Homo sapiens: one gene and its partners. The protein of the gene in region 3 interacts with the protein of the main gene of each other region in a biochemical or structural test. Each region holds a gene or a part of one and is shown on either strand. Other genes may lie near its edges.

Evidence for each region. Proteins that work in one complex are often made in the same cells at the same time.
Region 1: the proteins of PTN (region 3) and ROR1 form a complex in vitro, tested with the Homo sapiens proteins (one large-scale study listed by BioGRID).
Region 2: the proteins of PTN (region 3) and MFRP form a complex in vitro, tested with the Homo sapiens proteins (one large-scale study listed by BioGRID).

Annotation. Positions count from the first base shown.
Region 1 is NC_000001.11:64,175,609-64,179,160, forward strand, and holds part of ROR1 (inactive tyrosine-protein kinase transmembrane receptor ROR1 isoform 1 precursor), read left to right. Parts: intron 1-1,819; coding exon 1,820-3,247; 3' UTR 3,248-3,552. UniProt on the Homo sapiens protein: Has very low kinase activity in vitro and is unlikely to function as a tyrosine kinase in vivo. Receptor for ligand WNT5A which activate downstream NFkB signaling pathway and may result in the inhibition of WNT3A-mediated signaling.
Region 2 is NC_000011.10:119,343,753-119,348,380, forward strand, and holds the start of MFRP (membrane frizzled-related protein), read right to left. Parts: upstream 2,954-4,628; 5' UTR 2,762-2,953; coding exon 2,708-2,761; intron 2,623-2,707; coding exon 2,520-2,622; intron 2,408-2,519; coding exon 2,294-2,407; intron 2,177-2,293; coding exon 2,021-2,176; intron 1,882-2,020; coding exon 1,668-1,881; intron 1,253-1,667; coding exon 1,122-1,252; intron 1,006-1,121; coding exon 880-1,005; intron 640-879; coding exon 563-639; intron 213-562; coding exon 64-212; intron 1-63. UniProt on the Homo sapiens protein: May play a role in eye development.
Region 3 is NC_000007.14:137,249,307-137,253,367, forward strand, and holds part of PTN (pleiotrophin isoform 1 precursor), read right to left. Parts: intron 2,086-4,061; coding exon 1,924-2,085; intron 1-1,923.

The DNA of each region.
Region 1 (3,552 bases), on a different chromosome or scaffold from region 3:
CTTTGATGAACAAATAAGACCAATTTATAATGAGACAGTTTATTTGCATAGAATAATTAATGTTCCAAAATCCCCAATCCCAATTTGTCCTTTTAAGTGAGTATTTTGCTGCAAGTTTATTTACACTTACAATTAGGTTAGTGGGCATTTTGCCCTGGAAAATATCAGCCTAGAACAAATCTAATCATCATGAATTCTAAATTAGTAGAGTTTGGATAAGAGAACTTTTTTACCAAATTATCTAAACTGTTGTTTTAAACTCTGTACAGAGAGCTCTGGATTTCATATGTATTTCAACATTGTCAGTTTCAGTTAGAATTTTCAGGGTAGTATTCTTTTTTAAAAAATAAGGATTTGAAGGATGGGGATTATTTGAAAAATCAGTTGTATGTAAAATGCATTGTTTTTATTACTTTCTTTTCTAACAAATTAAATGAAACATCAGACTAAATTTGAGGTACATTTTAAAATAGTAAAAACATATAACATTATAGACATTTACTTGCCAAGATCAAATGTCATGATTCAATACTTATTTTCATTGTGAGCTAATGCCTTCACCTGTCTGTCTTAAGGTCAATTAATAAACAACCCACTTGCGAAGACCTAGGGATATACGTTGGTATGAAGGGCAGTGCTTCCAATAAGATTTCCCTTGAAATCTCGTTGTGAGGACAAAATACATGCATAAAAAGAACAGAAACATCAAGTTGATAATAATAACAAAAAGTTAAATAGTACTTACCATGGGCCAGACATAGGTCTGAGTGCTTTACAAACTTTAACTCATAGGTCTGAGTGCTTTACAAACATTAACTCATTAAAAGTTTGCAATAACATGGTAAGTACAATTATTATCATCCCATTTTATAGATGAAGGAATTGAGGCAAAAGTTAAATGTTGTATCTGGGGTCACACAGCTGGTAAGTGGAGAAGGCAGGATTCCAACTCAGACTGGCTATGGAGGCCACTTGTGTAACCAGCCACCACACTGCTTTGTGTATGTGGTGGCATTCACAGTAAAGGCAAAAGAGTCTAGCAAAGAAATGACCATAGTGGTCAGGGAAGGTTTTGCGGGAAGTGGGGCCTGAAACAGGCTTTTTAGAAAACAAAGGATTTAATCAATGGAGAAGACCGCATTTCAGACCTTCCCATCTCTATTGTGAGTACTTCAGAAGGACAATCTTTTGTTTTGGTTTCTCTTTTAGCACAATAAATATTCGAAGAATGGCAGAACATTGGAGGAACAAAAGTATTAGGCAAGAATGTAAATGGTTTCAGGAGTGGACATTGAGAAAACCTATTTAACTAAAGTGATGCCATCACACAGAGAAGTAGCAAGGGATCATGTCAGGAAAGTGAGTTAGGACCAGATTACAAATGCTCTGAGTACCAGGCTGTAGCCTCTGTGGTAGTGCTTCTGACACCCTAATCTTCACAGAAACCACTGGGGTCTTGTTAAATGCACATGCAGATTCAGTAGGTCTGAGGTGGGCCCAAGAGTCTGCATTTGCAGTAAGTTTGGGTGATGCTGATGTTGCTGGTCCCCAGACCACAGTTTGAGTACCAAGACTCTAGACAACAGCAAAAAACCATTTTGTGGCTGGGTTGAGGGAAAGGGATAGGGTAGTGATGGAAAGTTGTCTATGGCACCTCCCCTGAGTTGCAGCCAACGATTTGAAAGATATATAGACCTACAATATTTTATTGAATTTGTTTATAGAACCTTTTTCTATATGCCCCGTCCCTCCTTTCGGATGCAAAGCTGTCTTGCCTGAAGATATGTTTTAAACCACGTTTTTCCTCTCTTTCATACAGAGCAAGGCTAAAGAGCTACCTCTTTCTGCTGTACGCTTTATGGAAGAATTGGGTGAGTGTGCCTTTGGAAAAATCTATAAAGGCCATCTCTATCTCCCAGGCATGGACCATGCTCAGCTGGTTGCTATCAAGACCTTGAAAGACTATAACAACCCCCAGCAATGGACGGAATTTCAACAAGAAGCCTCCCTAATGGCAGAACTGCACCACCCCAATATTGTCTGCCTTCTAGGTGCCGTCACTCAGGAACAACCTGTGTGCATGCTTTTTGAGTATATTAATCAGGGGGATCTCCATGAGTTCCTCATCATGAGATCCCCACACTCTGATGTTGGCTGCAGCAGTGATGAAGATGGGACTGTGAAATCCAGCCTGGACCACGGAGATTTTCTGCACATTGCAATTCAGATTGCAGCTGGCATGGAATACCTGTCTAGTCACTTCTTTGTCCACAAGGACCTTGCAGCTCGCAATATTTTAATCGGAGAGCAACTTCATGTAAAGATTTCAGACTTGGGGCTTTCCAGAGAAATTTACTCCGCTGATTACTACAGGGTCCAGAGTAAGTCCTTGCTGCCCATTCGCTGGATGCCCCCTGAAGCCATCATGTATGGCAAATTCTCTTCTGATTCAGATATCTGGTCCTTTGGGGTTGTCTTGTGGGAGATTTTCAGTTTTGGACTCCAGCCATATTATGGATTCAGTAACCAGGAAGTGATTGAGATGGTGAGAAAACGGCAGCTCTTACCATGCTCTGAAGACTGCCCACCCAGAATGTACAGCCTCATGACAGAGTGCTGGAATGAGATTCCTTCTAGGAGACCAAGATTTAAAGATATTCACGTCCGGCTTCGGTCCTGGGAGGGACTCTCAAGTCACACAAGCTCTACTACTCCTTCAGGGGGAAATGCCACCACACAGACAACCTCCCTCAGTGCCAGCCCAGTGAGTAATCTCAGTAACCCCAGATATCCTAATTACATGTTCCCGAGCCAGGGTATTACACCACAGGGCCAGATTGCTGGTTTCATTGGCCCGCCAATACCTCAGAACCAGCGATTCATTCCCATCAATGGATACCCAATACCTCCTGGATATGCAGCGTTTCCAGCTGCCCACTACCAGCCAACAGGTCCTCCCAGAGTGATTCAGCACTGCCCACCTCCCAAGAGTCGGTCCCCAAGCAGTGCCAGTGGGTCGACTAGCACTGGCCATGTGACTAGCTTGCCCTCATCAGGATCCAATCAGGAAGCAAATATTCCTTTACTACCACACATGTCAATTCCAAATCATCCTGGTGGAATGGGTATCACCGTTTTTGGCAACAAATCTCAAAAACCCTACAAAATTGACTCAAAGCAAGCATCTTTACTAGGAGACGCCAATATTCATGGACACACCGAATCTATGATTTCTGCAGAACTGTAAAATGCACAACTTTTGTAAATGTGGTATACAGGACAAACTAGACGGCCGTAGAAAAGATTTATATTCAAATGTTTTTATTAAAGTAAGGTTCTCATTTAGCAGACATCGCAACAAGTACCTTCTGTGAAGTTTCACTGTGTCTTACCAAGCAGGACAGACACTCGGCCAGAAAAAAAAAAAAAAAAAAAAAACAAGCAAACAAAAACATTGTGGGATGTGCACTCCATTGGAGTGCATGACATGGCATTGGGATTGGAACATGTGGTTTCGAGCACTGAAAGCTGCAAACCAGTGAAGAGGAAAAG
Region 2 (4,628 bases), on a different chromosome or scaffold from region 3:
GGAAGCCGGGGGTGGCAGACAGTGAGGATGGAGTTATCCATGGCTCTTCCCTGGCTCCTGTACCTGCCCAGGAGGCTGAAGGCCCCTGAGCTGCTGGTCTCATACACCTCCACGTAGTCAAACTTGCACTCGTCCTGAGCCTCCAGGCTGAAGTTGTGGAACTGTAGTTCTATGCTGTGTCCGGCAGGCACCGAGATATGCCAGGTGCAGAGCTGGGGGAGGGCATAGGTGGAGCAATTCATGGCCCCTTCTCCTGTCTCATCCCGGGCACCCAGAAGGGTCTTCTTCCCCCACTGCTGGCTGGGGGGATGGGGTGGTGCTTTCATCATTGGTGGTTCTTAAGGACCTTTAATTTACCTGGTTTCAGAGGTGAGTTGACCCAGTGTGGGAACATCTGGGTACACAGCAGGCACTTAATAATATTCCCCCATCCCCCGTCTGCTTGATCTCTGACCTTCCCAAGTAGAAGGTAGTGTCTACCATGCCATTCCCATTACACTAACTTGGGGATCAGGTGCTTCCGTGTGTGCCCCTCCCGTTCTGCATGGAGCACTGTGCTTACCAGTTGGTGAGGGTACTGCTGCAGGTAGCTGGGAGTAGAGAAAGTGCCCTGGAGGCCAGTCAGATTCCCCCCACACCCTGTAGAGAGGTGGAAGGGCTCATGAGTTTGCTAGGATCTGTGCCTCCATCCAATAGGGCTGGCGGTGATTACAGAGCGAGAGTTTTGGCCATGCCCATGGGAAACAAGTTCTGGGCCAAAGAATGACTGAGCAGGAAATGCTGACGGAGGGCCCGGTTTGAGGCTGGACCAGAGCTGGGGAGCCCAGCTTGAACCCAGATCAGACGCCTGAAGAGAGGACCCCCATGCCTGGCCCGTACCCGAGAACTTGGCACTGCAATTGGTCTCATCACTGCCGTCAGCACAGTTGGCAAAACCATCACACACTGAGTCAGGTAGCAGGCAGATGAGCTGGTCACAGCGGAACTCATCATGGGCACAGCTCCCTGGATGTGGGCACCAGGAGTCAGGGAGGCCCGGAGTCTCCACCCCTTTGACAGGACTGGGAGTGGGTGGAGGGGAAGAAAGTGGACACTCAACAGGCAGGTGGGAACACACTCACCGCGCCCAGGGGCCATAGCCTGGTACCAGGCATGGAAACCAAATCCTTCCACACTGCTGTCAGAGACGAAGACCACCAGGAGGTGGCTGGCATTGGTGTTGAGCGTGGGGGGAGGCACCCTTCCACAAACCCTGCAAGAAGCCAGGTTGGGGGTGAGGGAGGCTCCAAGAGCAGGGTCAGCCAGAGAGGAGCTTGCCTGGGCCTTGCAGTCCTATTTTCTCAACCCCCAAACTGGTGACCATGTGGTCAAAAAGGCTCCTCTGATGTCCCAGGGAGCTCTGACCTTCCTAGCACCTGCACATTTATCCTTGTAGCATCTACTCATGGGGAGATAGGCAGGAGATCCATGTTACAGACTAGGAAACAGGTGAGAGAGGGGAAGTGATCTTCCTCACGGCACACAGCAAGGTGGTGGCAGAGCTGGGCCCAGAGGTCTAGTCTCTCAATTTCTTCCTCGGTTAGCCCTTCTCCCTGCCACTCCCTGATTCTGCTCTTTAGATAGTGGTTCAGGACACGGTGGGATGTCCTGGGGACAGAGGGACCTACCTGAGGAGGGGGCCTTCAGGCTCAGGGGAGAGTTCCAAGCGATCAAAAAGGCAAGAGGCCACACTCTCTATGCTGAGGGCTTCGATCTTGAGCTGTATTGCATGGTCTGTGGCCACCTGGATATGCCACACGCAGTGGGTGTTGGGGGGGTAAGGGTCTGGGTAGTTAGGGCTGCTGAAGAAGCCCCTTGGGCCAGAGAGGAGGCCTCCACAGGCTGCAGAGATGGAGGTTAGAGTTCAGAGGTCAAAAGGAGTGAGGTCCTTTATTCTCAAGGTGCCTCTTCCTCACCCTCCCCTCAACCCCACCCCGTCATCTTGGGCCCTTCTCCCGGAAGATCTGCCCCCAGTACTCACTGGACTGTGGGGAGGGGCTCACGCCTGACTCCTGCTGCCCTTTAGGGGTCCCAGCTGCCTGAGAGGTGGTGATGGTGGGGGTGGTGGTGGTCGTGGTAAGGCCTCCGGCAGGCAGTGGGCTATGGGACGCCCCAGATGGGGGTGCAGCCTGCAGCTCTGGAGGCGAGAAGATGGAGGGTGGCGTTCAGAGGAGCTGGGTCCTGGGAGGCTGGGAGAGCGGCTCATGGAGTTTCATTCCAAAGCCCTCGTTTCAAGCTGTCCCCGGGTACTTACGGGCCAGGATGATGGCCACCAGCAGCCCAAGCAGCAGGAGGAGCAGGCTGGAGAGCAGGAGGACACAGAGCCAGGAGAAGCGGCAGTCTGGCCGTAGCCCTCGAGGACGCCGACCTGCGGGTTGGCAGGTGGGGTTTTGAAAGCCCCTTCTGTTGGGTATTCCTCATGCTGTCCTTGGCTCCTGGGCCTCTCTGTCCTCCCCCAGGTCACCCCCTGGGATGGTTACCATGCCAGGGAGCTGGGACGCTGTAGCTGGCATCCTCTGGGAAAACTGGGGGAGGGCAGGGTGGCCCAGACTCAGGCTCGAAGGCAGGATTGCAGAACTCGGTCTGGAAGGGGGAGATACTTGAGGGCTGAGGGCAGCAGTGACCACTGGTGCTGGGTCTTAGGAGCACGATTCTATGTGGTCCTTACCTTGCTCGATTCTGTTGCCTCCATGCAGAGGATGACATCTGAGAAGTCCTTCATGGCACAAGGCTCTGCATGGCTTTCTGGAGTCCCTGTGACAGCCCAAGACCCCCAAGGGCCCACTCGCTGACCACAAACTCCCTGTCAGAGGGGCAGCCTCTACTACCCGAGGGAAAAGGCTGCCAGGCTAGACCAGTTCTTGGGCTGTCCTTGGTAGAGTGGTTTGGCCTATGGGCTACTCTGTCTCTGTGTGGGGGAAGGGATGGCAGCCAGGAGGAATTCACAAAGGCACGAAATGGTCCCTTAATCCAACTCAGCTGAGGATGCTGAGGTCAAGCCCCTGGCACAGGGTGGCAGTTCTTAAAGGCACAGGCGGTGGCTGAGAACACCCAGCAGAGGAAACTAGGTGCTCTGTGCGGGGATGTGACGAGGGGAGCTCTCCACCCCATCACCCAAGGCACTGAGTGAGCACTTAGGGGGTCGCTGGGAGGGGAGAGAAGTTGCAGGCAGAAGGGAGCCTTAGGTGGTCTGAGAAAGAAGCAGGGTGTAGGGGGTGGACAAAGCCAGCTGCCCACCTTTCCTCCCCACCAGGGTGACAGGGGTATTGGCCAGGCCGGGTCTTTGGAAGGCCCCTGGTAGATCACCGGTGTGACCAGGACAAGAGAGAAGAACATGGCATGAGCAGGGGGACTGGCTGCTCATTCCTGGGACCCCTAAGCCCGCAGGAGAAAGGACAGGGAAGGGGGAGAAGGTGCCCAGGTCTTGGGGAGGGTTGGGGTGTGGAGTCTAGCCACTGGGGCTGTTGCACAGTAGGAAACCTACACCCTGCAAACAAGATTACTTCATGCCTGTTTCTCCATGGGCGAAGTCCTCTTGGAAAATCCCAGCCTAGCCCTGCTGTCCTCAGGGAGAAAGGAAAGGGATTGGTAATCTGTTTTGTGTTAGCCATGCTTAGGCTGAGAGTTTGGCAGGGAGGGAAGTGGGGAGAGAGCCTCATATTTCTGGCTACTATTTGTAGAATGTCTGGGCAAGAGGGCTACATGCAGTTTCTCTCCTTTCATAACTATGAGGTAGCGTCACCATTTTACAAATGCTGGTGCTGGCCTCTGAGAGGTTATGTCACTTTCCCAAGGTCACACAGCTGGTAAGATACAGAGATGAGAGTTGAGCCTAGGAATGGATAGATCTTAGGCTCACGTTTTCTATGATGTACCTCTTTCACCCCACATTGGGGCTGAGGCATGCTGGGGGAGCAGAGGGATCAGAGTGACATGGGGGCAGAGTGAGGAACCCCTTGGGGATGGAAGCAAAGAGGACAGGCTGCCCTCCTTGCACTCAGGAAAGGAGATGCCTCCACCCACAAGTTTTTCTCCATTCGTCCCTGGAGGGTCTTAGTTTGCTTTTGTCTAGGGGGTCAAGCTGTTTCCTAGACCCTTGGAAGTCTAATGGTACATGGTCTTTAGGGAAGAGACTTTTTGGGAGCTGTAGGGACAGGTGCTCTTGGAGAGGATCAGACAGTCCCTGACCACAAAGTACTTCTCATTCTGGGTGGATCAAGACAGAGCAGGATTCCTGCCACACTGTGTGTTAAGAGCCTGGCCACAGGGGCAGCTTCCTGGACAGAGTGGCCCTGCGCTGAGCTTTGAGAATGATGAGCTGGGAGAGCCACGCCCTTGGGTCTGCTCCTCTGAAGCTGCTCGTTCGCTGTGATCATTGAGAGAGAGGTTGCTGTGCCGGGGTCTGGCCAGGCACTGGGCTCATGGAGCCGACTGAGACAAGGTGCCCTCGTCTCAAGGAGCCCCTGCTCTGCTGTGACAGTTCTCAAAGTGGGGCCCGGGGCCTTTTTTTAGAGGACTTGAGAGCTTAGAACTAGGCTCATAATAACACTAAGACATGATGTGCCTTTTTCACACTCATTCATGTTTTC
Region 3 (4,061 bases):
TACATGTGTATGCATGTGTGTGTGGTCTCTTGTCAATGGATTCCATACTAGAGCAGTAGTTCTCAATTTTGGCTGCATCATGAAACCTTCTGAGATGCATTCACAATTTTTAAACTACTGATGCTGATTGGGTTAGTCTGTGCTATACTTGGGCACTGGGAGTTTTGCAAGTTCCCACAGAATATTCTAATGTGAAGCCCAGGTTGAGCATCACTGTGCTAGAATGTGGAAGCTTCTTTAATTTCTTTTCCTTTCAATTCTGTATTTATGCTGAATATTTTGGTTCTACAGCTGGACTAAAAATAAATTATTTTGACTACAGTAACTCTGAGTTTTGCCATTTTTGGAAATGTTTCACTTGGTAGATAGGGCACTGATTTTGCTTAGATTTATGTGGTTGTCTCTGGACAAATGACATTTGGGAAGTCTGCATAAGTACTCACTGCAGTCACTCCAGCCCTGCTTCATGCCTTCCAAAAACCATATGACAACAGGCAGAGATTTCCATGATCTGGAAAGGGCAGCCTGAACCCTAGACTCACCACCTGCAGGTCCAGCCTGTACCTGGCCATCCTGAAGTTGGAGATAACTATTTCTATGGACAACTCCAGCAGTGGCCAAAAAGCCAGGCCTGTGAAAAATAAAGTCCTTTCTGGCCACCAGCAGGAAACCAGCCAATCTCCATCACCTTCTGCAGATTTTTTTTTTCTACTTTTATTTATTATGAGCATTTCTTACATGGTCATTTTTCTGAATCTCTCCTTACAATTTCTCTGGCAGTATGAATTTTCAGGACCACCTTAGAGTTAAAATATATGAGTAGAGGCCAAGAAGGTATTTGAATTTAGAGTTCATTGAGTCCCATTGTATTAGTTGGCTATAGCTCCTATAACAAAGTACCACAGAGTTGGTGGCTTAAACAACAGAAATTTATTTATTTATTGTCTTGCAGTTCTGGAAGCTACAAGCCTAAGATCAAGGCATCTGTAGGGCTGATTTCTTCTGAAGGTTCTCCCTATGGCTTGTAGATGGCATTCTTCTCCCTCTGTCTTCACACAGTCTTCTCTCTATGTATTTCTGTGTCCTAATCTCCCTTCTTATAAACACACCAGCTGCACTGGATTAGGGCCTACCCTTGTGACTGCATTTTATCTCAATTACCTCTTTAAAGACCCTGTCTCCAATACAGTGACATTGTGAGGGGGTTAAAACTTCAGCATATGAATTTGGGAAAACACAATTCAGACAATAACATCCATGATGAAAGAGTTTATTTCCCTCAGTTGGGATCCTTGTATGTATGAATTCATGGCCATAATGATTGTTTTTACCTTCTCCAGCAAGAGAGCAGAGCCTGACTTTCTGGGAGATACAGATCTCTGTCATTTAAAAATTCTGTGATGAATGTAGTTGGTAACCAAATTGAACTCAAAAAATATAAAGGCTCTGAAAACAAATGCAGAACCCATTAAGTTATGCAGTGAATAAAGGGAAAATGTAAAATAATTTTCCTGATTTTGTGAAAACTATATTTCAGATAATCTGGGAGAAGTTTGATTTAAAATTGTCTCCGTCATAAACATTCTGAGTTTGTTTTTCTTGTCAGGATACAGTTCCAATTAAGAGTGTGGAATATATGGTCATCATACAACTGTCTTTGCTGGTTTCTTTTGCTATGTTATTTATTTGGGTTAGGAGACTGTACCAATCCCCTCATCTATGCAGAGGACTTCAATTTGCACTCACAGGCTGCCTGCTTCAAAGTATTTTTAAAGTATTTTTGTGACTCTCAGTGTAGGGGAGTTTTTCAGTCACTTTCTTAAGGTAATTCACCTAATATTTCCTTCTGGAAAATGTGGGTTTTCCAGATCTTACCTGAGTCCATCAATCCATTAAAATTGTGGTATAATGGCAAGGACTTACCTTGAGGTTTGGGCTTGGTCAGTTTGCCACAGGGCTTGGAGATGGTGACAGTCTTCTGGCATTCGGCATTGTGCAGGGCTCGCTTCAGACTTCCAGTTCTGGTCTTCAGGGCTGTGTTCAGGTCACATTCTCCCCAGGCCTGGAACTGGTATTTGCACTCCGCTAAAGGCAGGGTAGAACCAAACAGAAATCCTTGAAAGATCCTATCGTACTTCCAGGATAATAAAGGCACACTTTTGTTTGTAACTTTTTTATTGAAATAATTATAGATCCATATGCAGCTATAAGAAATAATACAGAGTGTATGCGTGTGTATTGATTTCTGTTCAATTCTATCACATGTGTAGATGCATACGATCACCATCAATATACACCATTAATACACACTAATATACACTATTAATATACAGTCCCAATACAACAGTGGGTCATTCTTTATAGTCATGGCCTAGCCACCTTCCTCCTTCCCCACCTCCTTAATCCCCGGCAACTCCTTATCTGTTCTCTAGCTCTATCATTTTTCTAGCTTAAAAATGTTGCATAAATGGAATTCTACAATATGTAAACTTCTGAGATTGGCTTTTTTATTTAGCATAATTTCCTGAAGATCCATCCAAGTCATGTGCATCAATAGTCTGTTTCTTCCTATTGCTGAGTAGTATTCCATGGTCCCAATGTACCCCAGTTTGTTTAACCATTCATCAGCTGAAGGACATCCGAGTTGTTACCAGCCTTGGGTTACTACAAATAGAACTGCTATATAAATTCATGTATAGGTTTTTGTGGAAACATCAGTTTTCATTTCTCTGAGATAAATTACCAAGAAACTGCTGTGTTACATGGTAAATGCATGTTTCATTTCGTAAAAAACTGCAATACTCTTTTTCCACTGTGGCTGTACCACCTTACAATTTCCACTGGCAACATATGAGGGATCTGGTTTCTTGGCACCCTCACTAGCATTTCGTCTTGTCACTATTTTTTATTCTAGCCACTTTGATAGATGTAGAGTGATATCTCATTATGGTTTCAATTTCTAGTTCCCTAATAAGGAAAAGATGCTGAATATATTTTCAGGAGTTCATTTGTTGCCTATATATCCTCTTTGGTAAAATGTCTGTTAATGTTTTTTCCCCACTTTCTTATTGAACTGTTAGGTTTTGTTTGTTTTGTTTTTTGTTGTTGTTGTTTTGTTGTTTACTGTTGAGTTTGAGAGTTATTTAATATTCTCAATGTAAGTCTTTAAGATATACCTTTTAAACTTTTTGTAAGTGGGTTTTTAAGGTGCCCATATACAATTTAAGACCAAATGTACCTGTTCTCCATCACACTTTTATAGAACTTGTCTATATCCATTCAAATAAAAAATACCCCAAAGATTACAGAGGGAGAAAAAGACATACATGTATACATCCATTATCCTTCCTCACTTGTCTATGGGCCACAATGCATTTCCATAGAACACAGATAGGACATTTCAGGCATCATGTCCCACTATGGCTAAGAAAGACAAAAAGTCTGGATTGTGGAAGAGGTTATTTGAGGGTTCAATACTGGATATAAAGTTGAAAGTGTTGAGAGATCCTGTCTCAGATAGATAGATCAGGCCAGCATAAGACTGACTCCAGTCAGTGGGAGAAAGATTTATGAAACGTGGCTGTGAGCAGCCCTGCTGAACTCAGTAAGTGAATCTGTGAAACTGTGTGGAGGTTGGGGAGGGATCAAATGGGAGAGAAGGTCTGAAAGTGACAGGGAGAAACATGGAGAAGCAGGAGAATAAATAAGAAAAGGGGAAAGGAAAAATCAAAGGAACTTAGAAATAGAAGAAAGGAGAGAGAAGACAGATCAATTAACATTATTCAGAGGAATCAAGGATATATTTTATGTCCCTTTGGAAAGGCAGTGGTTCCCAACCAGGGATGATTTTGACCAACAGGGTACATTTGGCCATAGATATTTGGAGACATTTTTAGTTTTCACATCTGGAGCGGGTGAGGAATGCTACCGGAAACTAGCGAGTAGAAGCCAGCGATGCTCCTAAATACCCTAAAATGCACAAGACAGCCTCCACAACAAATAATTGCCTGGCCTGAAATGGGACCAGTCTGGTCACTTTGTGTCTGGTAAGATAAAGTTAT